2 separate regions of the Homo sapiens genome follow, and region 1 is linked to region 2. Evidence: fine-mapped expression QTL. Tissue or cell type: thyroid. Region 2 holds a variant in brackets; the other region holds the start of a gene. All regions are shown on one strand. Distances are from middle to middle. Region 1 holds the start of MIRLET7IHG (MIRLET7I host gene). Region 2 overlaps PPM1H (protein phosphatase, Mg2+/Mn2+ dependent 1H).

Evidence for each region. PIP is the estimated chance that this variant, and not a neighbour inherited with it, causes the effect.
Region 1: MIRLET7IHG starts here. The variant in region 2 is fine-mapped to the expression of MIRLET7IHG in thyroid (GTEx, PIP 0.97).

The regions. Positions count from the first base shown.
Region 1 is chr12:62,595,460-62,611,609 of GRCh38, reverse strand. It overlaps MIRLET7IHG (MIRLET7I host gene), which reads right to left and starts at 8,867. Exons shown (of 2, transcript NR_186001.1): 1 at 8,775-8,867. It overlaps MON2 (MON2 regulator of endosome-to-Golgi trafficking), which reads right to left. Exons shown (of 35, transcript NM_015026.3): 35 at 11,134-16,150. It overlaps LINC01465 (long intergenic non-protein coding RNA 1465), which reads left to right and starts at 8,176. Exons shown (of 1, transcript NR_121682.1): 1 at 8,176-9,859. MIRLET7I (microRNA let-7i) reads right to left here and starts at 7,924; the gene lies at 7,841-7,924. RefSeq lists enhancers at 7,484-8,005, 8,006-8,527, 8,634-8,823, 8,904-9,013, 8,528-9,049 and 1 more and silencers at 7,854-8,153, 8,244-8,553.
Region 2 is chr12:62,655,550-62,671,699 of GRCh38, reverse strand. PPM1H (protein phosphatase, Mg2+/Mn2+ dependent 1H) reads left to right here. Exons shown (of 10, transcript NM_020700.2): 9 at 4,371-4,522. It also overlaps the pseudogene RPL32P26. Among named protein-coding and RNA genes, the nearest start is that of MIRLET7I, 60 kb to the right of the region's middle. RefSeq lists enhancers at 11,726-12,252, 12,457-12,751, 12,253-12,778, 15,225-15,845. The variant T/C (reference allele first, on the strand shown) is at 6,523.

The DNA of each region.
Region 1 (16,150 bases), 60 kb after region 2:
CTGCTCTCGAATTCCTGACCTCAAGTAATCCACCTGCCTCGGCCTCTCAAAGTGCTGGGATTACAGGCGTGAGCCACCGCGCCCGGCCTCCTTCAACCTTATTTATATATGTGTGTGTATGCCTGGCATTTGTGGTACACATTCAAAAACATGATAATTTCTGTGCTTAGTAAAATGCAAAATCATTGTTTCTTTTGATCCACAGGTTGGTTATATTTTTTTACCTTTGTAGTGTGCTAATATATTCAAAGCAGTAACAGCACTCAGTTAAATATTTAAATTAGATTAATAACACTGGTAATATGTAGATGCACAATGAACTAACTGCTAAGTGTTAACATATATTGATGGGGGCTGGGCGCGGTGGCTCACACCTATAATCCCAGCACTTTGGGAGACGGAGGTGGGCGATCAATTGAGCCCTGTAGTTTTGAGACCAGCCTGGGCAACATGGCAAAACCCTGTCTCTACAAAAAATACAAAAATTAGCCAGGGGTGGTGGCGTGTGCCTGTAGTCTTAGCTACTCAGGAGGCTGAGGTGGAAAGATCGCTTGAGCCTGGGAGTTGAAGGTTGCAGTGAGCTGTGACCACGCCACTGCACTCCAGCCTGGATGACAGTGAGACCCTGTCTAAACACACACACACACACACACACACACACACACACACACAAAGAAGGTTAAGAAAAAAGGAATCTAACTGGAAACAAAAAATCGAATAAATTGCTAGAACAATTATTAGAGTTCCATTTAAAAGGACAAACATTCTATCATTTGCAACGACATGTTTAAACTTGGAGGACATTACACTAAATAAGCCAGGCATAGAAAGACAAATACTACATGATCTCATTTATATGTGGAATATAAAAAAGTCAAACTCAGAGAAGCAGAAAGGAGAGAATAGTGTTACCAGGGGCTTATAGACAGAGGGGGTAAGGTACTGGGGAGATGTTGGCTAAAGGGTACAAAGTTTCAGTTAGACAGGAGGAATAACAAAATAAAAGAGGAAAAACAGAACTAAGCTTATTGAAAGCAGTTAAAGCCAAACAAATTTTTTTAGTGAGCTGATTTTGCTTAGAGTACTTGTTTAAGAATGTGAAATAAGGCATACTTCTAGAAAAAGACTATGGAACTAGAAAAATAATATTTAAAATGGAAAGTTATTAAGTTTAATAGGCTAACATTAAAGCAAGTACTTTATACATACAAAGTACTTAGTAAAAGTTCTCAACACATCTCTTATTAATTCTAATTACTAGTTTTAATTATAATAGATATATTTAAACAATGGTATCCTTGTTGTGGGTATGTGTGAACTTGCACTATATTAGTCAATATATTTGATCTGGAGTATAAGGAAAATGGACTGATCCTCTGATAGACTTCAAGGTAGTATTTCAAAGTGGCCTGGGAGGATACCCTAAGAACACTTAGCTGCACCTTACTGACCTTCACATGGTTTTGTATGTGTTCTCACTTTGCTTTGGTTGTCTCCAAACCACAGGAATCTTTCTTTGTCTTGTTTTACGTGTTTTTGAGTTTTTATTATGGAACATTCTAAATATACACAAAAGTAGAACAGAATAAAAAAACCCATCTACCCATCACCCATCATCAATACCAACACTAAGACAAGCTTCTTTCCTGTGTACTCCCATATATGCTTCCCATCCCCCATGGATTAAAGTATGAAGCAAAGTCCGATCATATCATTCATTAGTAAATTATTTAGTATGCATATACCAAAAGATTTTTAAAAACTATAACCACAATACCATTTTCAAAAACAATTCTTTAACTTCTAATATTCAGTCAGTTTTAAAATTTCTCCAATTGTCTCATAAATGTGTTTGTGGTTAGCTTTGATCAAATTAGGATCCAAACAAGGTCTATACATTGCAATTAAACCGATAAATATCTTTAAATTCATTTTACTCTACAGGTTTTCCTGCCCTTCTTTCCTTAAAAATTTTTTTTCCTTAGATCATTTGTCTTATAGAATTTCAGTGTGGATTTTTGCTACTTGTGCTCCTGTGGTGATTTAACAATGTTCCCCTATATCTTAAATTTCTAATAAACTACTCATCAGATCTAGAAACTTGATGAGAGTCTAGAGTCTTAGTAAACCACTATCTAGTTCAATTATTTGAACTAGAATATCTAGTTATCTGTTTTTGTAATATTAAAATTGATCAGTGAGTTGAAGTGCGGTTGCCCTGATCCATGAATTAAATACTTCTCTACTACTGATTCATTAATCACATACTTCTCCATCAGCATTTTACTTAATGGTTTCAACCATTAAGTTAGCCATTGAAGAGGTCTAGCTTTATTTCATGAGCTGTTGTAAATGTTAACATTCTATCAGACGTTCTGCACTGTGAAACTGGAATTATTCTGTAATGAGGAAATCTCCCTCACAACCATTTAGTTACCCCGAGGTATAAATTATATAAGGAAGGTAGGATACTTCTTTCTTTCCTGTTCTCAGGCACCACAAGGCTCATAATCGCTCTCCATAGCTTATACTGTTAAAATAATCTGACGTTTCTGCTCCAGAGAGATGCATTCTCTACCTACTCACAGTGCACTCCTGCTTCTTTGAACTTTTACCATGTTTAGAGTGTACATCATAAAATGTGATGTCTGGCTATGGGGTCTAGATTCCTCCACAAGGTAGTTGGGCACTTGCTACAACATTGTAAGCTCTTAAAGGTGAAGTACCTCCTGCAGTGTTATCCTGTTTAGGAGATAGAAAACAGCCCTGGCTGACCAGGCGCGGTGGCTCTTGCCTGTAATACCAGCACTTTGGGAGGCCAAGGTGGGCGGATCATGAGGTCAGCAGTTCGAGACCAGCCTGGCCAACACGGTGAAACCTCATCTCTACTAAAAATACAAACATTAGCTGGGCGTGGTGGCGGGCGCCTGTAATCCCAGCTACTTAGGAGGCTGAGGCAGGAGAATTGCTTGAACCTGGGAGGTGGAGGTTGCAGTGAGCCGAGATCGTGCCATTGTACTCCAGCCTGGGCAACAAGAGCAAGATTCCGTCTCAAAAAAAAAAAAAGAAAGAAAGAAAACAGCCCTGGTGAAACTAAATTATCATCTTTTTTTAAAAAAAATAGGTACAATTATAACAAAAATCAATGGGAAATGGCTTTTTTAAAACATACAACTGGAATATCAATAGTGGTTTTGGAGCAAGGGCTCTAGAACAGGTGTATGAGTGGAACTCAGGTTTGAAAACAACTCAGGTGGCCCATGGATTGTCCTCACTACATGTCTGTAATTATTATTATAGGGAAATGTATTCCTTTTACAATGTGAATTCCATAATGTGGAGTTGGTTTTTTTGTGTTTGTTTTTGTTTTATCTTCTGTATATTCCCAGCACCTGACATAGAGCAGGTATCCGATTCACCTGTTGAATTTATCTGGAACTTATTTATTCTGTATAAGCTTCATTCACTACAAAAAGAAATGAATGGCAGATAGGATTCTTATTCTTAGGTTTTTCGTCCGAACTCTTAAAAAGTATGTAAATTTGTTTTTAAAACAGAAAAATATACTTTAATTTGCTTATGTATCTGTTTTTAGAGTTTAGTCAACTCTTTCGGCCATCTATTACGGTAACATTAAGTCAGTGTTACTATTATGACTAAAACTAGCCCATGCCTGTATCTACATAATACTTCTGTTTAACAAGGGCTTTAAAATACACTATGTGCAGAATATTAAAACAGCAATCTCTGAATCTTAATACCTTTTTGGTAGTTATGTTCAAAGTGAGATAAAACACCCGTTAATTGTTTATTACTCAACCTAAGAGCAGTTAAGGGATTTTTCAGGTATAACAGAAAACACATTACAACTACATATATGATCTAAACTGTCAATGTCTGTGGACAGTTTTTAGTCCTTAATTTACTTGAATTTTCTGTGACATATCACACAGCTTGGCTTTCTGCGAACTCCTGACTTCCATGATAAAATACTCTCAATTATATTATAATGGAACTAACGGAATTTGTAAACCTGATTCGAAGAAAATAATATTTTCTGTAAGTGTTGTTTGATGTTGAATAAGAGGAAAGAACTAGGAACTTATCCTTAAAAACACAAGATTGTGTCTTAGGTTTGTTCATATTTGATATAACTAAAAGACTAAAGTTACACTATCGGGTGTCAATAGTATGCCTTTAAAGGACCCTATTCACAAATTTAGTGGCCAAAAATCCTGTGTAGGCACAATTCCATTACATCTGAACAAAACAGCACTTTTAAAGAAAGGTAAATGTAAAACAAATTTAACCAAAAAAAAAATTTTCAACTTGAGATAAGAAAACACATAAATTCCATGTAGAACTGCTAATATTTCTTTTAATTCTGATGACACTCCCAGCGTATTTGTAGCAGATAATATGAAACTAAACTGTAAATCACCTAGAGTATCATTATCACTGCGATTGTCATCTCCAAGATCTCAGGCAACAAACCTAACCAAAAGAACTCCCTAAATTACTATACTATTTGAAGTGTTCCATACTTCCCTTCCCCCTTAGCTCATTCAATCACTTTTCTGCCAGGTCTCAAAAGTGAAGTAGGTCACTAATGTTTTTCTCACCTGCCCACATTTTGATTATTTATTTAATTTCTTGAGACAGAATCTCAACTATTTTGTCCAGGCAGGTCTCAAACTACTGGGCTCCAGTGACTCTCCTGCCTCAGCCTCCAGAGTACCTGGGATTATAGGTGCACATCACTGCACTGAGCTCACATTGATTTTTTTTTTTTTTTGACAGTCTCACTCTGTTGCCCAGGCTGCAGTGGTGCAATCATGGCTCACTGCAGCCTCAAAGTCCTGGGCTCATGAGATCCTCCCACCTCAGCGGGGACTACAGGCAGGCACCACCACACTCAGCTAATTACATTTTGATTCTTAAACACTTCATGTGACATCTTTCCTGTTTTCCTTTGGGGCAATGACCTAGCTATACAATTATTTTGCTTTCCCCATGGTGCCCAATAGTGATAACCTAACAAAAACACTTAGTGAACTTCATTAGACAATCTTAGAAATAATTTTCAAATTTTTGCTTAATTATCTAGATTATCAGTAGCGCCAACAGCTTTTCAGAGTTTATGACAATGGTCATTAATTCTCCTTTTGGGTACTACCAATCTGGCCTAATTCATTTTCGAAGATGATTGTCCTATTTACCTTTTGTTGTAGAAATTACAGAGGGGATTATTCAGTGGGAAAGGAAATTAATAGTATCTCCTTTGTCAGCTTCACCATGGAGCGGGTGGAGTGTAATAAACAATAGCGGGAGAGAGCATGTAGCTAGGAAGAAATCTCAGCCTTTTTGGTGCTTTGTGCTTATACACTGAAGAGCTAATTTGTGCTGTCAGGTGCCTCTGTCAGGAATTCTTTGGGGACCACTCCACAAGACACAATGTCTTGAGTGCACCCTTGCCAGTCAGTCTTGCCTACCTGCCAAAAGGTTATTTTAAAATAGCTTGTAAACAAAGCTTTTCTATGTAAGATTAGCAATCAGGAATTTTAAAGTATGAAGCAAAACTGTGTTCTCCAAGAATCTTCTCCATATGGTGTGTCCTATATACCATAACACAGTCTCCATTTCCAATTGAGGATGACATTTATTAAAATGTTATTACCATAACCCAGCTTTCCTTTGGTTTAGTATGTACTTATTGAGAAGGGCACTCAAAATACTGCCTTATTACTTTCCACCAGTGGCTTTTTACAACTACAAATTACTTAAATGCTTGACAACAGACCTTTAACAAAAAAGTTAACTGCACCAAGTAAATGTCAATAATACTAAGTTCAGAAAGCTGTATTTTTGATAAATCAAATTCATCTTGTGGGAAACTGTCAACAAGGAAAATGTTCAGTTGGTAATTTTCAGTTGGTGTGTAGAGAAATGTAATTAGCAGATCATTTTTAAAACTGGAGATTAGAGCAGAAATATAGCTATGGGATTAAAACAAGTCAGCTGGTGGCAGTATTTTCTCTTGTAACTTAGGAAACAGTTAACCTCTCAAAGTACCTTTACATCCAATAACTCAAAAATGTTACTACTATTTGGGCAATATGTAGTTGTGGATAAAATTTACTTTAAAAACACAAGATATAAAGTATGAATAGTTTATCTGTATAGGACATTGAGCATTTCTGGTGTGCTTATCCGCTTAAAGTTTAAATTACCAGCAGAATTTGTTATACTTTGGGGTGCAGATTAACAACCGTTGATTCTCCATAAAAATGTTAGAGTGTAGTGGGTTGGAAGATTACCTCGGTTGGTTGAATGAAGTGTTTTGGAAAATAAAATCATAATGAAATTAGCATGTTATGATTAGTTTCTCCATAAACCAAGATTTGACACAGCACCGCAGAGGTTTTCATTATTTAAGAAAACAAGCACTTAACAAAGCCCTGAATTTACTCTGCGTTGCTATCAAGAAAAGCAAACTTCAAGAGCCAACATTCAAGCATTTTCTGCATCTTAAGATTCAAGATAAGGTTCTTCACCGCCCTTCCCACAATGAGGCGGCTCCATCCTGATGAGATCAGATTAAGTAAGGTTATTCTCAAGGCTAAACCAAACCCAATCAAGGCACATATATTAGATCACTTTTGAATGATAAAAGCATCAAACTCCTGCTGAAGGGTTTGGTTGGTTTAAAGAACTGCCTTATTTGTTTTTCAACTGAGCATCAGAAAACCATAGAAAACTGCGATTACATTATATTCAAAACTACTTATTCTGTACAAATACAGATCAGTTTTCAACGAAAAGTACTAAAACTGACCACTTACTTCCCTCAGTGAAAATAAAATAAAAATACAAGTATCTTGTTTTCCACGCAGACTTCAGGGTATTAGAGCACTGAGTATTTTCATTAGTTATCCAAACTACCTTTTTTCTCTATGCAAAGGTATTTTCCTATTAGGAGTAGTGGCCACTCAGGAATCAAAATGAGTGTTAGTAGATTTTAAACTCAAATCTAGAAACCACTTTCAATTCCTAGTCCTCTTCTCCCATACAAAACCTCAAAGATGTAAGTACCACATAACATTAGAATCAAAGGCCATAAAAACCAAAAAACCAACCCACCACACCAGCAGAATCTGAGCCCCAAGGTTAAACTAAAAAGAAAAAACAAAAAACAAAACCATTCACAGCACACTGTACATAGAATTTATTTGTTTGCCTCATACATTAAAAAATCGGAATAGTGCAATTACCTACAAATAATTTCAATCTTCTCATTCGCGAGTTGCAAAGTTTAAAGAGAAACTTTAAATTGCTTTGGGTTTACGTTTTTAAAGACACACTCAGATTTACTAAGAGAGCATATCAGAAACCAGATCTAAAATGTTAAGGCATAAACTTTAATTATCAGGTCTACTTCTTCTGCCCCTCTAATGCCAGTTCTGCAGATCGCTCACACCACTCCAACCTACAGCTAAAGAATGAAGTAAAACAGGTACACACTAAATTTGGCATTTAACTGCTGAAAGAAGTGTTAGAATTTTTTAGGGTGAAAAAGTTATCTGTATCAATTATCTTACACAATTCCACTCCTTCCTTCAAGAAAAGGAATCCAATGGCTTAGCTCTTTCCCAACCTTTAAAATGCATCGCGGTCCACCCCACTCCCCTCAATTCCTTCTAGGAAAATGTGAAACTAACGGTTTCCGTGGTGGCCGCGCCGGCCGGGCGCCGAGGCTTCGCGGGCTGTCCCCAGGCAGCGCCCCGGAAAACAAAGGGGATTCCCAGCCATTGTCCTCCGCGGCGCTGAGCATCACCAGCACTAGCAAGGCAGTAGCTTGCGCAGTTATCTCCACAGCGGGCAATGTCACAACCCGACCAACAGCACAAACTACTACCTCAGCCAGGGCCATGGTGTCGGGGAGGCACGGGACCACGCGGAGGGCAGCAAAGCGGCTCCGGCGCTCCTCCGTCCTTCCTCGCCGCCGACGTCGGCCCGCCGCCCCTTCTTTTCCTTTGCCTTCCCCCCGCGCCGCGCCCGGAGACCCCGCCCAGCACCCAGCGGCTCGGCTACTCCCGGCGCGCCCCGAGAGCTACGGGGATGAGAGGCGGCGCCGGCGCCCGGGTGATACAGCCGGCGTTCTGTACGTCAGCCACCGCTCTGAAGAGAGAAAAGCGGCGGTGTCCTGCGGAGAGAGCCGCTCCCTCCACTGCCCGAGGGGAGCGCGTCGCCTCAGCCGCTCGAAAGCAGGAAATGGGCGGCAAAAGCGCAGTCAGACACCAACTGGTTCTGGACTGCCCCCGAGAGGCAGCGAGCAGCGCTCCCGCGCTTCGCCCGCTAGGAGCTGCCGCCACGTCCCGAGCTGCGCCGCTCGCGCCCCTCCCTGCTCCGAGTCCCCGGTGGGGGCTGGGCTGCGGCCGAGTCCGGTACCCGGGCCCCCACCCGCGCCGCGCTGTCGAACCCGCCGCCGGCCCGCTCTCGGCGCCGATAATCGCCGGCGGGCATCCCGCAGAGGCTGCCGCCGGCTCCGCCAAACAGCAGCCAAGGCATAGCCGGGAAGTCCCCAGGCCACCCGTTCCCCAGCACCCTTCGGGGAATTCCCGTTCAGCTCTACAGGAGGCGAAAACGGAACAAACGAAAACCCCTTAACAGTGAAACCGGGCCCGGCGATGGCCCGGGTGGCGACTGCGACGACTCGACGCGTGCGGACACAAGACCCGTCTCGCGCTCCGCTGCTCCTGTGCGTCCGGACGAACCTTAGAGATCACTTAAGGAGGCTCGCGCGCTACTCCTCACCACGTGACCGCCCCGCCAGGCCGCCCCCCGCGCCGCCATCTTACATCCGGGACAGAGGCGGCGTCCCCTTTCCCTGCCTTGGCAGGCGTCAGCGTGCTACCAGAAATCAGCCCTGAAAGAGGGGACCCCGATTCCACGTCACCAGAGTGCTGAGGCAGCGGGCGATGCCCTCCATCGGCTCAGCGGGGGGGAGTGGAGTCCCAAACTTTTTTCGGCCTTTGCCCGCAAAGAAGATGGCGGCGCATATCGCCGCCTAAGCGGACACGTTGTACCCTGGCCGTGGTTTGAAGTTTCCGGCACCTCCTTTCCCAACCAGCAAGGACACAACCATACGAGCCCCACCCACGCGGGGTGGCTGCCGTGCTACATTCCGCAGAAAACAGGCGGGAAAGCTGCGGCACAGCCCGCTTTAAACGCAAGCTTTTGGGACTTCTGGTTTTGGCTTTTTCTTTTTAAGCCAAGTTAGGGAGAAGGCTGACTGCCATGGAGCCACTTCTGCTTTTGGCCCAGACAACTTACGGGATTTTTTTTTTCCTCCCATTTAGAGATTTTTTGTAGGAAGTTAACAAATTATTTTAAAGAAGTAGTTAGGGCTTGTCAGATAAAATACAGGACGCCCAGTTAAATTGGAATTTCAGATAACCAGTGTTTTGGCATATGTGTGTTACATATATTTTTAAAATTGTTTATCTGATATTCCAATTTAACTGCACATTCTCAATTTTTAATGACTGTATCTGGCAACCCTATCAGCCTTTACCCCTGAAAATCCAGACTGCTTATGACAAAAGTAAGGAATGGAGGGAAATGAAAAGCATGTTTACCTACAACTTAGAATTGTCTTTGCCCAGACTTTGATCCTTCATGGAGGCCAGAGGGCCGTGGTCTAGAACAAAATTTGGCAGCAACTCATAAAGATATCCTTGTATAATTCCCTTTCTGGCAAAGTAAGATTTTTTTTTTCTTAAGCTATCACGATGTAATTTTGGACAACAGATCCTCTTGGCCAAGAGTTTAATTGCAAATTAAAAATTAAATAACTGGCTTTTTGTTTCTATTCTACATGGTATAGGCGATGGGACCCAAACAATTTCTTAAAGTAGAAGTTTTCAAGTTAAAAATCAGCCTGCCTGACATATTTCATAAGAACATTTTTAGGTGCATATTCAGAAACTATTTCCAATTAAGAATATTTGTGTAAACATAATACATTTGCAGTTAAATGCTTTACCTGACAAAGCATAAACTCACCTATCAATCACTAAGCATAAACTCAAAGCAAAAACTCAATCACACCATAAACTCATCTATCAATCACTTACCAGAAAGTCTGTAGAAACTTCACACCATCCTTCCTTGATAAGCAAAGATTGGACTGCCATGGGAATCAACCCTCACTGCTCATTGACTGCGCAGTGGATCAGATTATTCTGTACCAAAGCAAATGTCCTTTGCCATAATGGCACAGATTTTTAAATGGCCACTAAACACCTGTTTGGTCTATGGTATACAGATTTGTTACAGCAGTAGTTTCCAACTAAATTTAGTCATTATACTACTTTATCACTTACATTCCTTTCCATAATGTTTTTAACAGTGCTAACACCAATATACTCATCATCCACATATAATGTACTGTTACCATCAACTTTTTCTCCCCCCTCCCTGCATATCAGGAATCTTAAGTATCCTTTCTGAATATGACCACCGTTAATCAATTCTTTATCATCACCTCATAGCAAGAAAATTGCAACAGCTTTCTAGCTTAGCTTTCCATACTGTATATATCCTATCCTGCTTATGATTGCAAGTTTATCTTCCTTGGTTTTATAATTTATTCTTAAATCACTCCAGACCCTGCCATCTCAAATCTAAACTACTCTCCTTGGCTTTCAAGGAATTTTATGAAGGGACCCAATCCTTCACAACCAACCTTGTTTCACACAATACACCAAAATGCACTGTTTTCTATTTCACAGATATGCCTTGCTCACATTATCTTGCCTGAAATCCCTCCGTATATCCTTTGAACTCATCCAAAATCTAGGTAGCCATCAAGACTAACTTTAATTTCTATCTTAACCACTGAGCTTTTTCATTTCTTTAAAAAACTTCCTTCTGACTACTAACAGCACTATTAACCTGAACCACAGAAGACTAGGCTAAGGTTCCTATTTTATGATTTCATTTTAATCTGTACTTGTCTTTTACTGTACTTTACATACTTGTTAAAAGGTCTGTATTCCCTATAAAACTGAAAACTCCATGAGGACAGAGACTAACCCAATGCTTAACGCAAAAACAGGGTCTAAACAGTTGTTAGTGATACACCAGTATTTAATTGTATAGTCTTGTATCCAGTATTATTTTATATATGCGGTTTCCTTGACTAGCTGTAATAAGCACTTGAGAGCGCTCCAAATAGCTTCTGTCATACAGCAAGGACACAGTTATTAGCACACAGTAGATTCTTAACATTCAGTGGTTGTCTGGTGAAAGGCAAAAAATTGGTCCCTATTGTGGGAAGACATGGATTTTCTGGCCATTCTTGAATGATGTGTGCCAAATGTGTTTTACTTCCCTAACCACCTAGTGGTGATGATGCTCCAGGCACAGCGCTTTAGAACACACTACATTTTGAATTCTGTTAAATACCACGATTAACTCCATTTCACAGAGGAGGACACCAAAACAGGTTAATTAACTTGCCCAAGGTCACACATTTAGTAAAATAACAGAGTTGGGATTTGCATCTAAGAAGCCTGGCCCCAGACTCTGGGCTCTTAACCACAATGCTGTTATTTATAACATAACTTCTTAAAACACACAACATATGTTTTAAATAGATAAAATGTTTTAAACCTGGACCAATAATAAAAACCCAATGCAACTTTCAAGGTCATCGTTAAGACAAATCTTTTTTTCACAGTATTTTTAGTTCTTTGTTATGTTCAAGTATATTTGTCCCAGTGCCCATCATAGAAATAGTAATTGCCTCAAGAGTATTTTTAGTTTATTTTATAAGTCTTGGATTTTAATGGACTGTAAAACATGAAACTATTGTACTGTAGTAGAAAGAACTGCTTTTGAAAAAGCAAGACATAGTGATCCACCTGGACTTTAGGTATGTGACTCTAGGCAGCTCACTTCAACCCCCTAATCCTTGACTCTTCTGTAAAATGAAAATAACTTCTTTGCAAGGCTACTTTGAGGATTAAAGGGAATAATATAGGCAAAGCCTTGGCCTGCACATACTAGGTACTCCAGAAATGGTGGTTAAAATTACGCATCAGAAAAATTATTTTAACTATATCTGACTGCAGTACACACTGAGTAACGTACAAATTCTTGTTTTATACTTTCATTACATAACAAAAAAAGGAATTTTAATGCAAATTATTTTCTTTGAGAGGTAGAGAGATAGTCTGGCATTGATATGGACAGGCAGTTTCAAAACAGCTTCACCAAATTAAAAAAAAATGCTCATAAGATTAAGATAATCTAATCTACATCAGGATTTTTACTTGACCTAGCATTTTTACTTAAAGTTCCAAATCTTTCTTTCTAAACTATTGAGAGACACTTCGTGTCTTCTGTTTATTATTTTTTCATTTTATATATTAATGGTTTTAATAAAGCTCTCAAGAACATTTCCCCTTTACTCTATAATTTTTTTTTTCCCAAAGTGATCATCCTAAACATGTGACTCACTACTCGTAAAGTCTTTAAACAGAGTAAGTGATGTGGGGTGTCAATAATGTTTCAGACTTAACGGGGATGAGAAAGCAAACACAAAGTATATTCAAGAAAAAAATGAATCACTGGTCAGATCCAAAGGTAAATTATCAAAGTGGTTATGATTTTAAGTTATAAAGAAACACTAGTGTTGCTGGAACATAATTAAAAACCTGGAATCATGCTTAATGTTAGCTGTAAAACAAATAAACAATCTGTACAATCACAGTTATAACTATATAGCTTTCATGAAAAATCTATCCTAGACTACAAAGAAAATTTGGGTTTGAGGCCAATACAATTTCATGATTATAATACATAACTGATACATCTCAACAACATAAAAATTGTAAGGAGAAAGAGTAACAACAGTGGTATTACTTTCAAGAATTGTGTTGGGAACTAAAAAATAATTTCACAAAATTAGATAAATATATCCAGTCTGACATAAACACCATATGGTAGCTGCCTTAAGAGACAGGAGTTGTATGTTACGTGTTAAATTATGACACAGAGGTAGTAGTAAGAGATGGAAAGCAAATGAAATTTGCACAGTTGGGTCTGAAGCCTAATATTTTCTTTTTCTAGATAAAAATAAAATTGCAATATAGGTATGGAGTATTTTTCTCCATCTAGTAAACATCATAGAAGGAAGCAGTTGTTAATATATTGCAATGATTTTCCAAATAACGGCATGGTTTAGCAGATCTTCCCTGGCTGCACTGTTTATTGAATTTTAGTTTAAAATAAAACTTAGTGTAACTACATTCGCAGCAACTGAAAATGGTCTGAAAATTTAATTTTTTCATACTTGAGGGGATAGAATCAATACCATAGTACAATTAGGAAGGTTTCAATTGACCTCTGGGTGACCTCTGGGTGAACCAATCACACAGACACCAAATACACTCCAGAAAGACTCAGATATGAGAACTATAAGATTCCGGGTCTTCCATCAAAGACTGCTTTGCAACAGAAAAATGAAAATAGTTGAAATACATGGGCAATATGCTGCCTCAAATTATTCTTGTAAGTAGGCAGTGTCAATATAAATCAATATTAAGATGGGATAAATCTAAAAGTTTAAACGTCTGCCTCAAAAAAACAAATATCTCCCCCACCCCCCAAAATCATAAAAAACCAAAACCCTAATTAAAAATATTTTTTTGAACTAGAGATAGGATCTTGCTATGTTGTCTAGGCTAGTCTCAAACTCCTGGCCTCAAGTGATACTCCCACCTTGGCTTCCCAAAGTGCTGGGATTACAGGTGTGGGCCACCACGCCAGCCAAAACCCTCATTTAAACAGGTTTTAAATACTTTACTTTGAGAAAAGATATATAATCTCTCTACCCACATAACAGAAAAGACATGATTATTCCAAATTTAGGTGCTGAATCCATCATATTTATAGCAATCCCATTTTGTGAGCATCTTGGCTGCTGAATCCCGTGTATTCATAAAGACAGTAGGAGTTATAGTCACAATTTTTTTTTATTTTTAGTTTTTTATGGCACTTCCAGTTTTTGGAACATATTACTTTAACTTGTTCAGCTATTTCAAAATGGCAGGGGAACTTTACCTTGGCAAAAACGCAACAGTGGCCAAAGTGCAAAGTATTTCTACTTTCCACTTTGTAGTGGTAGAACCATGAGCAGTGGTTCTACCACTAACAGCTCCACTTCTTATGAACAAGGAATAGGCACAATTAGAGAAAGAGCTGAAAGAGAAGAGGCAGAGAATGAAAGAGGAATTAAAAGAGAAAAATCAGGGGAAAGTATAAGAAAGATGGTAACGTAAACATAAAATTTAACAAGGATAAAAACATAAAAGAGAGAAGGGGAGGGAAGAAAGTGATGTCCAAGAAAAAGGAAGAAAAATGGTCAAAGATCTCTCTTACAATATAGTAATAAATTTATCAAACAACTTGAATTACCCTGTCATTAAAATCAACTCCACACTCAAATTATGCATTTTTTCCTCTAAAGAATTAGTAACTCATTGATCATCATCTCTGTTTAGAAATAAGGAAACCGCTTTGAAAAGTCAACATGCCTAGAGTTAAATAAGAAGTAGCATCTCTGTCCATCATTGCCTCAGAATTAGTCGAGATGACCAAGAATATTCATATAGAACTTGCCACATGTTCTTTTAAATAGCCAACACTGTTAGAGCATTAGAAAGTATTGGATTTGTAAGACATTTAACTTCCTCTGAAATGGTCTGTATATAAATCAAGATACAAAGATATCATCTCTCTTTCTGAATCTATAAACACTTTTCATTCAAATGAAAGCACTATTCTACTTTCCAGAGATACAAAAACTTTAATTCAAGTGATCATGAAGTATTAAAGACTTTTCCCACTTTATATAAATTGGTAAAATACTATGTGGCATGAACTCCCATTCTTCTCATGAATGACAATTTTTTTAAAATAAAAATTCCCTCTAATAATGTAGATAAATACAACCCAGGAACACTAAGCATAGTAAAATGTGATGCTTTATACAAGATTAGCTTATCTGCCAAAATGCCAAACCTAAGTGGAAATCTAAGGAACATACCTGGCTGCTGGCAATGCTTTCAGAGATCATTTTTGTCTACATCTGTGGTAGTTTTCTCTGAAAAACTGTAATCCACAATATTCTGAGCCTGTACACTAACCCATTCCAAGGGTGGCACAGTTAGGGACTCCTGTAAGTGTTCTGCCTTGGCTAGACAGACTTCACCTACAGCAGTCTCTTGAAAACTTGGTTGCCCATCTGAATTATTCTGTATTTGGGGAGAAAATATTAGTCATTTTAAAATAACTACACTGCCCTTCATTGACACAAATGTAATAATGACCACCTCATTAATAAAGAATATACTTTTGAGTTGTTTTCTAACACTGTTCCATAACTTATGCTAATTCATCCTTAACTGTTTCTCAACTGATCCTTTGGCCCAATGGTTACCTGGGACTAGTGGTACCAAATTGTGACAATAAAACAAAATGCTCTTTAAAATTATACTGAGAAAGGACAAATAATCTAGTTGTTACTGGCCTGCTGTAGAAATAATTTAATTGAATATTATTCTCCAGAATAAAATATCTACACTAAATTGTTCATCTCTTTCTTCTGATGATACATACAAATTTAAGGAATATAGCAAGAGTTGAATCGATAACCATATAATGGAAAAAACAAGAAACAAGAAAGATGTTAGCTGTTAAGTGAATAAAATTAAAAATGAAAGCAAGTGAAAAGTGGTTCTAAGCTAGACTTTTTTATGCCTTTTGTTTGTTTTGGAACCTAAAAGGCTCCTAATAAATGTTACAAATGTATACAATAAAATTAACAAAACCTTAACACTAGTTATAAAGAAATACTAAAGACATTACAAAATGATGTATTTTTTTCTCCCTTGGCAGTGGTGGTAGCATAGGAAACTAAGAAGTAATCTATGCAAGTTAACAATTAGTTTATTTCCTTTATAATGGACAAAATGGCCAGAAAAAGACTTTATTAATCATACAATTGGTGGCATATGTCTGTTGTCCAGCAATATGAATAAAACAGGCACTGGCAGTGACAGCAAGTGACGATGTGAGGCTT
Region 2 (16,150 bases):
CTCAGATGGTACCTTCCCAGAGAGGTCCACCATGACCTCATCTTCTAAAATGACTCTATTGTTCTCCTTACCATGCTGGATTTTTCTTCAGAGCATCTTTCATCTTCTGACATTGTAATTTATTTGGGTGTCTATCTCATCTACTAGTTTAGAAGTTGTGAGAGGCTTTGTCAGTTTTAGTCACTGTGTCCCCAGTGCCTGGAAAACGAGTTGGCACACAGCAAGTATGCAATAAAAGCGTACTGAAGGCAGCAGAAAGGCAGGTCCACACAGGTCCCATTTTTTAGCTGCTCAGATTATATTGTTCTGAAAAACTGCAAGAATCTCAAGGATTCGTCTGGCTTTTTTCTCCCTTTCTTGGTGGATGGGAACCCGGGAAGGAGCCATTAGAAGGTCTGACCATGTCCCCCAGTCCCACTTCAAAGCCGTTTCTGTAGCACACCTGTCCCCTCCAGGGCTGCAAAGACTCTTCCAGATGTCTGAGTCCTGGGGAGCTTCAGAGCCCATTAGTTTGATGTGAGGCTTCCAGGAACATTAAGAAGCTATTTAAGGAATTGAACAGGGGAACTTTGAGGATGTGGGTATGGTTCGATTGAGTAAGGCCAACAACAGCTTCAGGGAGGGAAGGTCAGGACTCCGGAGCCCAGTGGAATCCTTTGAAGCCTTTGCTGCTGGGGAGGATAAGCACACAGTGGGATGACTTGCGCGGCAGTCCAATTCTTCTGAAAACATTTTTGCAAAATGTTCTGCATCACAGGTTAATGTATAGGACACGAGTTGTAAGTGGAAAGTTAGCAAAGATTTTTGGAAATTGGCTAAAGGGCAGGAAACAGAGGGTGGTTGTAAAAACCTCAAAAGATGTTAATTGGGGAGTGCTTCACAGACCAGGGTTGTGACCAGCTTTTTATTATTTTCATACAAATTACATGAAGAACGGTCTTGAGAAGGATTTTCATGTTGGCTAATTAAACTACATTAGGGAGCCGAGCATAGAAATGGGAACGGTAGAATTAGGGAAAGATTACATTTATTGATGGAATTGAAGAGTAGCATTTTATAACGTGTGTATGTATCAACCCACACCCATTCTGTTGGCCAGATTTCCATTTGAGTGTGGACAAGACAACTTCAGCTTGAATAACACAACCTGTCACATTTCTTGGGTCAGCAGGAAGCACTTTAAAGAGGGTTTGGCACCCTACTCATAGGGCAGACTCTGAAATTAAATGGATGTTATCTGCAGACCTGAACCCTCTCTTTTAGAAGAAGCTGCAAGGCAAATGGAATCTCCTGTTTAACTGCAAGCATAAGATTGAGACATCCACATCTCACCACCTCTTATGACTCAATATTGTCTATCATAAAGAGTTCAAATTATCCCAAAAATTTATTGTAGGTATAACCCAATAAGAAGCTAGGAATCGGCCAGGCGCGGTGGCTCATGCCTGTAATCCCAGTACTTTGGGAGGCCGAGGTGGGTGGATCACCTGAGGTCGGGAGTTCGAGACCAGCCTGACCAGCATGGAGAATCCCTGTCTCTACTAAAAATACAAAATTAGCCGGGCGTGGTGGCACATGCCTGTAATCCCAGCTACTAGGGAGGCTGAAGCAGGAGAATCGCTTCAACCTGGGAGGCAGAGGTTGCAGTGAGCTGAGATCATGCCATTGCACTCCAGCCTGGGCAACAAGAGCAAAACTCCGTCTCAAAAAAAAAAAAAAAAAAAAAAAAAGGAATCAATCCTCTAAACACTATTTTTTTTTTAAAGACTGGGTCTCACTGTCACCCAGGCTGGAGTGTAATGGCACAGTCATGGCTCACCACAGCCTCAAAATCCTGGGTTCAAGCAATTCTCCTGCCTCAGCCTCCCAAGTAGCTGGGATGACAGGCATGCACTGCCATGCCCAGGGTCTCATTGTTTTCTTTAATTTTTGTAGAGATAGGATCTCACTATGTTGCCCAGGCTGGTCACGAACTCCTGGCCTCAAGTGATCCCCCTGCCTTGGCCTCCTATTAGCAGTGTCTCTCAAAGTTATTGTATACTGAAAGTAACAACACAGTGAACCAGTACTTGAAGCTAGGAGCCCAGGGGTGACATTTACAGTCTGTCAACAGCCCACTCTAAGGAACAGTCTCCACAGTCATCATAAAGTCCACTGAGACGTTGATTCCCTTGTGTACAAATCTGGCCCAGTAGGAATCCTCTCTGGCCTTGCTACTCGGGGCCCGGTCTGTGAACCTGCAGCATTGGCATCACCTGGGAGGAAGTTGAACCACAGCTCTCAAGCCCACCCGGAACTGAATTGTAATCTGGATTTTAGCAGGATCCCTAGCTGACTTCTGTGCACATTAATATTTGAGAAGCTCTGCTCTAACACACCGAAGAACCATGGAAAATAAAGCATAGGAGGGTTGCTTGTTTCTGATACAGTGAAAATTGGACCACATTCGTCAGTGACCTGAGGACAGAATTCTGACATTTGGGACTTTCTGGTCTGCCGGAAACTGAGGCTTTCATGTTTTCTTTAATTTGGCTTAAAAGGCTGAGTGCCCTCTCCGGAACATAAGTTTAGCCTTAAGTGAGCATGCCTTTTGGAAAGAAGATGTTAAACACCAGTGCAGTGTACTCCTGAGTGTTCCTCCCTTGAGCGCAGCTCATGTGCTGGGCCATTAGCTAATTGTTACCTTCTTGTTCACAGGCCACAAAGGCCTGGCGCCTGGTGGCTGCTTTTCATTTGAGCTCATTCACCCAGGGCCCTGTGGGTAAACATTTTGTTGTGTTCTGCTGCTGGGAATAGACTGTCAGCCCACAGGACCAGCCCCATGCCAGGGCATCACTAGCCTGGACAAACCTTTCTAAAACATAGGAGGCTTGGCTTTCAAAGACCTAAACAGATTTAGTCTCTAGGCTGAGGTGATATGATTGTCTCTAGATCTGAGGTGACATAACAATGGCTGTGCCATAGGACATGTGCCCTGACCCATCGCTTTCACTCAGACTTGCATTTAGAAAATAACAGGAATGGGCTGGGCATGGTGGCTCATGCCTGTAACCCCAGCACTTTGGGAGGCTGAAGCAGGCGGATCCCTTGAAGCCAGGGGTTCCAGACCAGCTGGGACCCAGCTGGTAAAACCCCATCTCTACTAAAGATACAAAAATTAGCTGGGTGTAGTGGCATGCACCTGTAATCCCAGCTACTTGGGAGGCTGAAGCGGGAGAATCGCTTGAACCCTGGAGGCGAAGGTTGCAGTGAGCTGAGATCACGCCACTGTACTCCAGCCTGGGCAACACAGTGAGAGACTCCGTCTCAATTAGAAAGACAGAAAATAGAGTAATAAGGGAGGCTGAAGGGGATTGATTAAATTGACTTGCTTTTCTTCTCAGTTCATGAGATGGTATAATAGGCAGGGATTGATTCTGCCAAATTAGGAGGGAAGAGCAGTGAAACCCCAAATCCCTCTCCACACCTCCCTATCCCTCCCCTCCCACATTGAAGTAGGATGGACATAGAATTGTGGCCTAGCCCAAGAGAGGCTTGATTTTTATTCTTACTAGTTTTGCCTAGGCTGCCTCATTCTCTTTCCAGAGCTTAGGTGGGTGTTGAAATATCCAAGTCATTTAAGGTACTAGACATGAGGAAAGACTTAAGTCTGTCAAGACAAAGACATACTTTGGAGGTTCAGAGTGAGCGTGTATCTTCTGTGAGCCTCAGTTGAGGCTCCTGAAACATGAAGGTAGTGTCAGAGCCCCCATCCTTATGTGAGAGGAGTTGGCTGCTTGGGCCTCAGAGCAGGTAATGCAAGAAAGGTTTCAAGTGAGTGCATTAAATAGAATGTCTCGTTACTCCTAGACAAATACATGTAGAGCAGCTACTAAGAATCCTGAATTGGTTTTATCTCCCCCACAGACTGAGACCTCCTCTGAAGCAGAAAAATCAGATATTTAACTTTGCATTTATAGCACTTGGCACAGGGTAGGCCCTTAATAAATGTTTGCTGAATGAATACGCAAAGGAAGACAGCAAACAAGCTCACTGCTGATCTTCTGGCTAGCATAAAATCCACTTATAAATCATCATTCTGACTATACCTCAGACATTACATTTTCAATTAATTTCTTCTATGTCAATTACTAAGCCCACCGCTTAGGCTCATTCACAAATGTGTATTAGGCCCCATGTGTCTATATAGCAAGTCTCCAAGGGAGACTATCCCTGGCCACACAGCTCGCTGTATAATCAAGTACCCTACAATGCATATCTGAAAACCACTAGGCTGGGCAGGAAAAGGGAAGGGGAATCAGAAGTCAGTTTGTTAGGGAGAATAATATGCTTCCAATTTCTTAAGTGGTAGTATTCTTGTTTTTTTTCAGGTAAGAATCTACGATCTTTCAAAATATGATCATGGATCAGATGATGTGCTGATCTTGGCCACTGATGGACTCTGGGACGTTTTATCAAATGAAGAAGTAGCAGAAGCAATCACTCAGTTTCTTCCTAACTGTGATCCAGATGATCCTCACAGGTTTGTGCATTTCTACAATTGTAGGGTTGTTCCTCAAGCATTCTTCCATGACATGCCTGAAATTAATAATCATGCAATTTTCATAATTCATGACTTAGAGGCTGATATGGACGGTACAGTAACCAAACTGCAGAAGGGATTACCTTTCTTGTAAGAGGTACTTTCCAGCCAGGTGTGGCGTCTCATGCCTATAATCCCAGCACTTTGGGGGGCCAAGGCGGGTGAATCATGAGGTCAGGAGTTCTAGACCAGCCTGGCCAACATGGTGAAACCCTGTCTCTACTAAAAATACAAAAATTAGCTGGGCATGGTGGTGGGCACCTGTAATCCCAGTTACTCGGGAGGCAGAGGCAGGAGAATTGCTTGAACCTGGGAGGTAGAGGTTGCAGTGAGCTGAGACTGCACCACTGCACTCTAGCCTGGGTGACAGAGCGACCCTCTGTCACAAAACAAAAAAAAAGAGGTACTTTCTCTGCCAAATAAAAATCCCCCTTAAGTTGAACGTAGATACAAGTGGTAAAGAATTTGAGTGTTTGTTTAGGCATTTCAGCGGCATACCTTTCTCACATTTTTACTTCCTCTAAGCTATCCTCTAAAGTAGAAATAATCCCATTTCTGATCCTGTTGATGAGAGTGATGGCAAATGCACCCCAGCACTGATAGTCATCCATTGGAGAATTGTTTCTTTTGAGAAATACTTGGTAAGAAGAGAAAGATCCAAGTTAAGTATTTCTTACAGTCTAGCAGCAGTGTAAATAACCTAAATATCCTTAGAAGACTCTCAGAAATAAACAGAAACTACCTCTCGAGAAAGGCAGCTTTATCTAGAACACAAGTCACCATGAGTAAAAGCCAGCAGGAATAACAGAGGCATCAGAATTGGACCTGTAAATACTTCTTTATTGGATTTAGCAGTCAAAAATATAAATATTTTTAGCTGGGCATAGTGATGCATACCTGTAGTCTCAGCTGCTTGAGAGGCTAAGGCATGAGAATCGCTTGAACCCCGGAGACAGAGGTTGCAGTGAGCCAAGATCGCGCCACTGCACTCCAGCCTGGGTGACAGAGGAAGACTCGGTCTCAAAACACAAACAAAAGAAAGCCAACAATAATATAAAATATTTTAACATGCTTCAGAAATTTTTTTTTAGCCAAGCATGGTGGCTCACACCTGTAATCCCAACACTTTGGGAGATAACGCAGGAGGATCACTTGAGCCACAGGAGTTTAAGACAAGCCTGGGAAACATGGTGAAACCCCATCTTTACAAAAATTAGCTGAGCATGGTGGTGCATGCCTGTGGTTCCAACTACTCAGGGGGCTGAGGTGGGATTGCTTGAGCCCAGGAGGCAGTGGTTGCAGTGAGCCAAGATCGATCACACCACTGCACTCCAGCCTGGGCAGCAGAGCAAGACTCCGTCTCAAAACAAACAAAAAAATTTAAAGCATTTAAAATAGGAGTCTTAAAAGAGACTAAAAAAATGACTAAACAATTTTTAAGAAAATGGAATTCTAGAGATGATAAATTTAAAAATAGGAATTAAAAATTCACTGAATTAAACAGATTAGAGCTAGTTGAAGAGAACACTGGTGAACTAGAAAATTGATCTAATAAATAATCCAGTAGATGGCTTAGACAAAGAGAAAAGACAATGTGAAATGAGATTAAGAGACTAAAAAGATGGCCTAAGGTGCTCTAAAAGAATTCCAAAAGGATAAACTATAGAAGATGGGAAGAAGTTCCAGAATTTTTTGTCAATACTAAACCTAAGATTCAGAAAGCCTGACAAATCTCTGGAAGGAGAAATAAAATAGTGAAACCGAAGAAAAGCCGAGTGCTGTGGCTCATCCCTGTAATCCCAGCACTTTGGGAGGTGGAGGCGGGCAGATCACCTGAGGTCAGGAGTTCAAGACCAGCCTAGCCAACATGGCGAAACTCCCATCTCTACTAAAAATACAAAAATTAGCCAGGCATGGTGATGCATGTGTGTAATTCCAGC[T/C]ACTCAAGAGGCTGAGGCATGAGAATTGTTTGAACCTGGGAGGCGGAAGTTGCAGTGAGTTGAGATCACGCCACTGCACTCCAGCCTGGGTGAAAGAGTGAGACTCTGTCCCAAAAAAAAGAGAAAGAAACTGAAGAACTTTAACCCCTTTGCCTTCCAAAAATATATTAAAAGCAGCCAGGAAAAAAAAAAAAAAAGAAGACATTCAGACTGACAGCCAACTTTCAAAAGTAAACGGTGCCAATGGTGGGATTATATCTTCAGCTGGCTAAGAAAAAAATAACTGTCAATCTAGGAATTTTAGATGTAGCAAAACTATCAATAACAAGGATGAAGTAAACAAATTTTCAGGCAAAACATAAACTGATACATATTACCGCCAACTAACCTCTTCTGAAGAAATTTCTACAGGGTGTGCTCAGGTAAGAAAAGGAAATGATCCCACAGGAAATATCTGAGAAGTAAAATGGATTATTAAGCTAAGGTATTAGTAAACATGTGGTCATATTTAAATATACCTTGACTATATAAAACAGTAATAAGAATGTCTAATGTGTGGGTTAAAAATGATAGAACTAAAATATTGCATAAAAATAGCGTACAAATTGTCAAGGGAGGGGTGTTAGCTCACATGCTATGCTTCTTTTGAGAAGTTAATGGTGTTTAACTTTAGGCTTTAAGTAAACAAGTTGAAATAGCTAAGAAAACTGTTAAAATAATAGAAAGGGTAACTTCTAAACTAGTAAAGGAGAGGAAACTCACATGGAATAGAAACCAAACTTCTAAACAACTTATGAATCAAAGGAAAAAATTATAATGAAAATTAGAAAGTACCTGGGCCTGAATAATAATACATATCAAAACTGTAAAGGCTGAAATTTTAGCCTTTTTTTCTAATTTAATAAACTAAGCATAGATGAAGACTCCATTCACCTCTGACCTGCCAGAAATGACTATTATCCCTCTATGCCATGAGCTAACTTTATCCAAATGTCCCCCTGTGTCACAGGGAACCTCTGGCCACAAGATCCTGATTTCTGGAAACAGAGAAGAAAAGAAAGATACCCTTAACCACAGAGAAAGATATTTCTGAGTGAGGCCCTAAGGGCTGACTTGTGTTACTTGGCTAGTTCGGTCTATATTCTTCGCATAAATGTACACAGAATAATTTTTTTTTTTTTTTTTGAGATGGAGTTTCGCTCTTGTTGCCCAGGCTGGAGTGCAATGGCGCAAATCTCAGCTCACCGCAACCTCCGCCTGCCAGGTTCAAGCAATTCTCCTGCCTCAGCCTCCCTAGTAGCTGGGATTACAGGCATGTGCCACCACGCCCAGCTAATTTTGTATTTTTAGTAGAGATGGGGTTTCTCCATGTTGGTCAGGCTGGTCTCGAGCTCCCAACCTCAGGTGATGCGCCCACCTCGGCCTCCCAAAGTGCTGGGATTACAGGCATGAGCCACTGCGCCCGGCAAGAATTCTTACAACTTAAAGGCTCTAAGGAGCCAAAGTGAAGCTGCCTACCTAAATTGATCCATAGAATCAGTACAATTATAACCATAATACCAATGGTGTTTTTATGGAGCCCAGCAGTTCTACTCTTAGGTCTGTACCCTGGAGTGGTGGTTCTGAAAAGCACGGTCCTTTGAGCTACATGGCATCAGCAGCACCTGGGAACTTGTTAGAAATGCAAATTTTGGCTGGCATGGTGGGTCATGCCTATAATCCTAACCCTTTGGGAGGCTGAAGCAGGAGGATCACCTGAACCTGGGAGTTCAAGACCAGCCTGGGCAACATAGTGAGACCCTGTCTCTACCTTTACATATATATTTTATAAATTTTTTTTTTTAAAAGAGAATTGCAGATTTTCAGGCCCCACCTGAAATAAAAACTCCAATGGTAGGACCAACCATTTGTGTTTTAACAAACCATGCAGGTGATTCTGATGCTGCTAAAATTCAAGAACCGACTCTCCTAGAAGAACTCTTGCATCGTCGTTCATGCAAGAAGATATTCACAGAATTGTTTTTATTACAGAAACTGGAAGTAACTTGCGTGTCCAGTGGTGGGACGGGTAAACAAATATTGGGATACTTTATAGCACCTCCCCCACCCCCAAAATGAGCCAAAGCTGTGCTCATTAACAGGGAAGAATCTCAAAAACATAATGTTGAGTTTAATAAGCCATAGAGGAATACATACATTAGAATTCTATGTACATGAAGTGAAAACTACCAATATATTGTTTAGGGATATAGACATTAAAACTATAACAAAAACCAAGAAAATTGGCCCAAAATTCAAGATAATGGTTACTTTGAGAGGAGAAGAGGCAGATACCAAGGGGAATATATGCTTGAGGCCTGTTGGGTTTCTAAGATATTTACTGATAATATTCTGTTCCTTCAAGTAGATGGCAGGTACATTGTTGTTTGTGTTATTTTTAAACTATAAATGGTATATGAGAGGCAGGGTAGTCTCGTGGTTAAGAGCCTGTAATCTATAATTACTTCCCGAGTTGAATTTTGGCTCTTCCCCTTCTAGATTTAGGATCTTGGGAAAATTTCTTAACTCTTCTCTGATTGTTCATATGTAAAATGGAGATTCCAACAGTATTAACCTCATGCATATATATTATTAGGTGAAGTGCCTAATAGATAATAAGCACTAATAGATGTGTGTGTTGTTATGTCTCACATATTTCACAACAGAAATTCAGGAAACGTGAAGGTAGACCATCTGTCTCCTCCTCGAATTGTCTGATATAATTCAGCTCAGGTGTGGAGGAATTGATGGCACTATAATTAAATATTCTTTTATTTGAATTTGAATGTGTTTTTCGCCTTTCAAGTTTCATGTTATGTATCCCACTTGTTAGCAACATTCTCATGTTGATTTTTCTCTACTATGATTATTTTTATAAAGCTTTGCAAAGCCACCTGCCAGTTATGCATTAAAAGGCACTCAGCACTTTTTTTCTGTGTCTAAGCTGGCTTGGTCTTGCTTACCAGCCTTCCTCCAGAGTGATAAATCTGTATGCCAAGGAGTGGTAACCTGTGGGCAGCGTGCACATGCCAGGTCAGAGCAGGCTCCTGGGGTCCACGAGAACTGCTGCCTACGGAGGCAGGGTTCACAAGGATCTCTTTGGAACAAACAGGATGGGAAAGAAAAAATGTTTTCTGTATGCCTTTCGGGGAAGATGGCAAACCAAAGCAATAGAAAGAATCCTATATCAGATGGATGAATGAATGAAAGGGAAAATTGCAAGGGGAACACAGTTTATCAGCAAGAAATAGACTATCAGTCTGCAGATTAGACAATTATGGTTGTAAAGACAGGTGCAGTGGCATGTGCCTATAATCTGAGCGACTCCATAGGCTGAAGCAGGAAGATGGCTTAAGCTTGAGTTCAAGACCAGCCTGGACAACACAGCAAGACTTCCTCTCTAAAAATAAGGAAAAAAAAAGTGTTTTAACAGACAGAACTGGCCTAGGTGCAGTGGCCCACACCTGTAATCCCAGCATTTTGGGAAGCCAAGGCAGGCGGATCCCTTGAGGCCAAGAGTTCAAGACCAGCCTGGCCAATATGGCGAAACCCCGTCTATACTAAAAATACAAAAATTAGCTGGGCATGGTGGCACCTGTAATCCCAGCTATTCGGGAGGCTGAGGCACGAGAATCTCTTGAAGCTGGCAAGTCGAGGTTGCAGTGAGCCGAGATGGTGCCACTGCACTCCAGCCTGGGCAACAGAGCGAGACCCTGTCTCAAAAAATAAAAAAGAAAAGGAACTGAAGAGTCAAGGTTTTCTTCTTAACAAATAACTCCCATTCTGATTTGTTCATTTGGGAAATACCACTAAGGACCTATTATTTTGTGAGCCAAGGCCTGCTAGATACTCGTGAAGAACACACACCTCAGCTCTGCCCTCTTTGAGTTTACAGTCTGGAGGGATTACAGCAGCATTAACCTAAAGCAAAGGATGTCTACACTTAAACCTGAAGAATAAACAGGAGCGAGGCAAGGGTCAGGGGAGTTGGGGAGAAAAAACATGGCACATTCTGGGACCCAACAGTCAGTGTGGCTGACTGGTCTTGGAGGTGGGGAGCAGAATGTCAACAGATGAGGTGTGAGGGGTCAGCAGGGGCCCATGATCTCATGAGATCATGAACGTGAAAATTATTTGTGTTAAAGGAAGTCTGTGGTAACGATATGGAATTTATGTAATTTGTTCATTATGATTCACAACCAGGAAGCATTCTGCAAAATCTGATGGTGAGAAACAAGATGAGGATTGTTTTCCTACCCCTGTGTGTTCCTTTAAGTAATTACACAATATTGGGACATCAGAGAAACTTAATTTGTTTCAGACTGACAATTTAGGTCTTAGCCAAGAAACCTTTGCTCAGACCAATGTCCTAAAGCATTTCTCCAGTGTTTTCTTCTAGTAGTTTCGTAGTTTCAGGTCTTATATTTAAGTCTTTAATTTGTTTTTATTATTTGATTTTTGTATATGGTGAGAGACAGGGCTCTGGTTTCCTTTTTCTGCATGTGGATATCCAATTTTCCCAGCACCATTTATTGAAGAGACTGTCCTTTCCCCAATGTATGTTCTTGGCACCTTTGTTGAACATGAGTTGGCTGTAAATGCATGGATTTACTTCCAGGTTCTCTATTCTGTCCCATTGGTCTATGTGTCTGTTTTTATGCCAGTACCATGCTATTTGGGTTAATATAGCTTTGTAGTATATTTTAAAGTCAGGAAGTGTGATGTCTCCAGCTTTGTTCTTTCTGTTCAGGTTTGCTATGGCTGTTCTGGGTCTTTTGTAGTTTCATACAAATTTTAGGGTTGTTTTTTCTATTTCTGTTGTCAAACTCATAATTTAGGAATATGTGAAACAGTGTTCTCTTTCATGTGTTTGCCATCTTTGTACATACCTGTGTGTAATTTGGTAGGAGGGCACCACACTCACACACCAGTTTAGGATGTCTCCTTGGGAGGCTCATGGACAAAGAGAGCTCAGTCCCAAGAGCCAGTGCCCTCCCAGCTGGGAGCTGTTCTAATCTTGTCATGCCAAATGGAAATATGAGTAGAAGTTGCCAAGTCATAATTTCTGTGATGAGGAAAGGCCCACTATAATTCCAGAGGCTCTATTAGCCCTTCCTTGGCCAGAGAGTTCCTATTTCTCCATATGTAGCCTGGGACTACACGTTTGCCTGTTTAATTTTCAGTGGAGAGTTGCTGGGTTCAAGCCTGAGGGAACTGACCAAAGGAGGTCAGCCTATTGTTGGACACAAAATGAGAAGGGAAAAGTTCTCCCCAGGGTGGGAAGCCTGAGGGAAGGGGAATGGAACAAAGCCGGTGAGAAGGGTAAGGTGCTTCTGCATCTGAGGTTTTGAGTGGGCCTGTTTTACTTTGAGTCTTACCAGGATCTCCCAGTTTTGTCTAGAAAGGAAGCAGGACAAAAAGAGGCAGGGAATGAGGCCTGAGACAGGCAAGACTAGGGGCTTTTGTCGTTTGATTGTTGGGCTTTTGTTTATGTTGCCTGTAGGTTCCTTTTCTTTTTGTTTTTCTTTTACCTCCTAGTGACAGCCATTCTAAACAAATTGCCAGCATTGTCTTCCTCTGTTGACATCCTTCCCAGCAAGGAATTTAAAATAGCATCTCCCCCTCCAGAATGTGCTGTGAGGGAAGAGGTGATTAGCATAAAGATGTGTTCTGACCCTCACACCATCCTCTCAGGCAGAGATGGGAGTAAAAATGAGCTGTATGATCTTTCTGACCCTGGTGTATCTTAAGTCCTTTTGCTCTTTTGAACTGTCTCAACAAAGGAACCAGAAAATTAAAAGGCGGCTTTATGGATGAGCCAGAATATGAGTGCAGTAAGTTTTTCTCTTTTTTTTTTTTTTTTTTTTTTGCAGTTTTTACGGTTTTTTAGAACACAATGTGCACATGAGCTGTCTACCCATTTTCTTCGCTGCACAGCCTGGCATTGGGGTTGGTGACTCTGATGGCCAGCTGGGCAGCTCTTTCCACAACGGCTTTGCAGTTCTTGGAGGAAACATTGTGAATGATCTCAGCACAGTAAGATTTGTTGCATGGCAGCAGCACTTCCGGCTCCTTGACGCTGTGGATCAGGAACTTCCGGAAGCCACTGGGCAGCATGTGCTGTTTTTCTGTTGCTCCCATAACCAATGTTGGGCATCAAGATCTAGCCTTTGAACCTTCTATGAGCCCTGTTGTCAGTACCTCTGGGTTTCTGCCAGTTACGCTTAATTTTGACATATTGGTCAGACTGGTGCTGGATGAACTTCTTGGTTCTTTTTTTGACAATCTTGGGCTCCACAAGGAGTCTGAAGTTGGCCCTGATGCCAAGGAGGAGATGGCCCCTCTTTCTTTCTTTCTTTTCTATCACAGTTTGCCCTGAATTGTAGGGAAGCTGGCAGTTCTTTTACTCTTGTGGGGTCACGAAATGAACTGTTCCTAGGAAATGCATTGCGCTAACATCCTGGAGTGGGGTTGCTGCAGGTAATGGAGGTTGGGCTGCACAGTCCTCTGGTTCCTTATAATTCCAGTAAGGTTCTCTTTTAAGCCCTAAAGATCCTACATGATTTGGAGAAGGCACTCAAACCTGGAAAGGGTTTTCTGATGCAAAATATCTGCAACTGACTGTCCCCTCTGTAAGGCTGGAGGTTCAGTGGGGGGGTCTCCTGGGAAGAATATTCAAAACGGAGGCAAATATGTAAACACTCAGAGAAGAAGACGCTTACCATTTTGTCAGAAAGGAATAAATTGTTACTATTACTGAAGGGGAAGGGAGTGGGCAAAGCCAAGAGGAACTAGGGCCAGGGAATAGCTAACCAAACTTGGAAATGCACATGGATTCACATTCCCAGTGCCCAGGCAAAACTGTGCAGGCTTTGCTCTAGAGCTTCATTTCCCCAAAACTGTCTGTGGAAACTTCTTTTTTACTTAAAAAAAAAAAAAAAAAAAAAAAAAAAAAATTCACCGTGTTACCCAGGCTGGTCTCAAGCAATCCTCCTGCCTCTGCCTTGGCCTCCCAAAGTGCTGGGATTGCAGGTGTGAGCCATCATGCCTGGCCCCACCTCATTTTTTTTTTTTTTTTTTTTGTAACCTGGATTTAATGACCCTCTGTCTCCCTGCCATGACCCTTGAGGGGCTTTTTATGCAGTATTTATGCAGTATTAAATCTGTAAGAACCAGTATACCATAAACCCTACAGAGTATGTCTCTAATGAGAGAAGCCTTCCTGATGTCCACACTTGTCAGTCTTCACATCCATGCTCTCCTTGGCTCAGATAGCTGTGTGCCTTGGAAGGAAGAGATTAATCAGTGAAAGGTTAATAGTAAAACACCAACACTGACAACAGGCGTTAATTCAAGTATTAAATGCTAGTTTGCATTACCCTAATATGAAATTTATTTTTGCAAAATACAAAGGTTCTTTTTATGAAACCTTTCCATGAGTTAGCTGAACTAATTTCTTGCATGCCATAAGGTTTTCAAAAACTATGCCTTAAATGCAAAAAGGAAGGGTTTCCTCCACTTTTCACCATACCAATTACTGGTTTTAAGAACAAATTCATGAGTGTTTGATCTGGTGTCTGAAGACTAGATAAAAATCTGCAGTTTTCTCTCTTTTGCAATGTTTAGCACACTCAGATCTGTGGGAATTCAGAAATCAGCCTGAGGTCCTGGCTGTGGCAGCCTCTAACAGCACACAGCCAACCACCGTCCCATCCTGTTTAGGGTGTTTATGTGGCAGAGCTGTGTGGCCCCTTAGCTGTGTGGCCACATCAGGATGTTTTACAGGGCTTCCCAGGGAGGATTGAGAAGGAAATAGTCTATTATGCCCCCTCGTATTGAAATGTTACTGTTTGGAATTTGAACTAAAAACCTACCACCTAAGAAACCAGGGAACCAGGGCCAGGGTGCATAGAGGTGGATGAGGCCTGGCAGGGCGTCTCACCCTCTCTCATGGGGGTGGGGAACTCCCTCCAGTCTGCAGCTTTGTGTCTGCTGGCAGCACACAAACTCCCAATGAGCCCAGTGACAGCACTGCAGACAACAGTTGTCGTTATTCTGGTGTCTCAGGGTATTCTGCCTGAGTGGAGTCCCCATAACCTGACAGGGGACAGAAGCTGGCATGAGCAGCTTCACCTGCTTAAGAACTCGGTTCCAGAGCTACACAAGGGGCATCTGTGGACCAGCTCTCAGCAGTGAATCTAAGATGTGTGCCTCTTCCCAGGATGAGTTGCCTAGTTCTGGGCACAACAAAGGCCATTCCCTATTCTAAGCCACCCCTGACCCTCCACCCACCAAGACGCCACTGCCATAGACCCCTGCCAACATTCCAAAGCTGGGAGAGCTTTTCTACCTCTTAAATTTCTGAGGCCTGCTCAGAATGCAAAGGGGATTCCTCCTCCTGTTCCCCTCACACTGTATTACTGCGGGTGTCAGCAGATGGAGCCTGCCTTTTATATGCAAATATTTGGAAGCCATTAATTCCCCAGTTCCTGCCACTACTCACCCTCTTATAAGACCCTGTCTGTACCATCCAAATGGCAAATTGAAGTTCCCACCCAACAAGAACTATTAAGAACTTTAAGATACGGTGATAGCCTGCAGCCTGAAATTGACTTATTTTTGACACTGTTGTGCTGATTCAGATGCTAAAGATTCAGAAAACAGACTATAAGACGTAGATGACTTATGACAAAACTCCTGGGGAGGAGAAAGGCATTTAATATCTAATAAGGAACATAACTAACACTTATTGACCTCCGATTGTGTGCCAGGCACTGTGCTGAATGCTTTATGGAAAGATCACATGGCTGTTACAGGAGCCTTGGAGGTCTGCACTATTATTGAGTAAGGAAAGAGGGGCTCCAAGAGGCTAAAAACTTCTTCCAGAGCCACCCATCTGGATGGTGGGAAAGCCAGGATTGGAACCTGGGCAAGCCACGCTTACACCCAGAGCCCTTTTCTGGTCCATTAGGAAGGAAAAGAACTAAGGACAGCAACAGAATCTGCAAGGACAAGAGGACAATCGAGGATTTATGGCCTCCTTCCGCCTGACTTTAAGAGTCAGTGGTTATGAAAAGAGCTTTGGCCTTCCCATCGCTCTTCAGCCCCTCTTCCTTTTTGTTTTCCATGCCTCCCCTGCTGTCCTTTCTCTGCTCCCTCCCGCTCAGAGCCTGAGCCCTGTGGAGTTTGCCAAGTCTGATCCCTGCCCAGCAGCCATTGCTTTCAGCAGAGCTTTGCTGATAAATATTGAAAGCTTCAGCTAGAGAAGAAAAATGTTCTCAAAATTCAAAACATGTCTCCTGGGGAGACTCTTCATTAGGAGTGGGCATTTCAAACTCCTCCGCAGTTGTCTAATGCAGCCTGGCCCAGCATTCAGTGACGGCACTAGGGCTGCTCCACACACAGCTTCCAGAAGCATCGGGCTCCGGCTGCCACACAGTCCCAGTTGGTGTGTAACAGAATCCACTACCCATTGGCTGTCTCCAGCTGTACCATATTCTTCTTGGCTGCTCTCTTGGATATTTTATGCTTATACAGTATGTATGTTTTGACTCAAATTTTCTTCTACTACTTTCTACAGTTCTCCTTT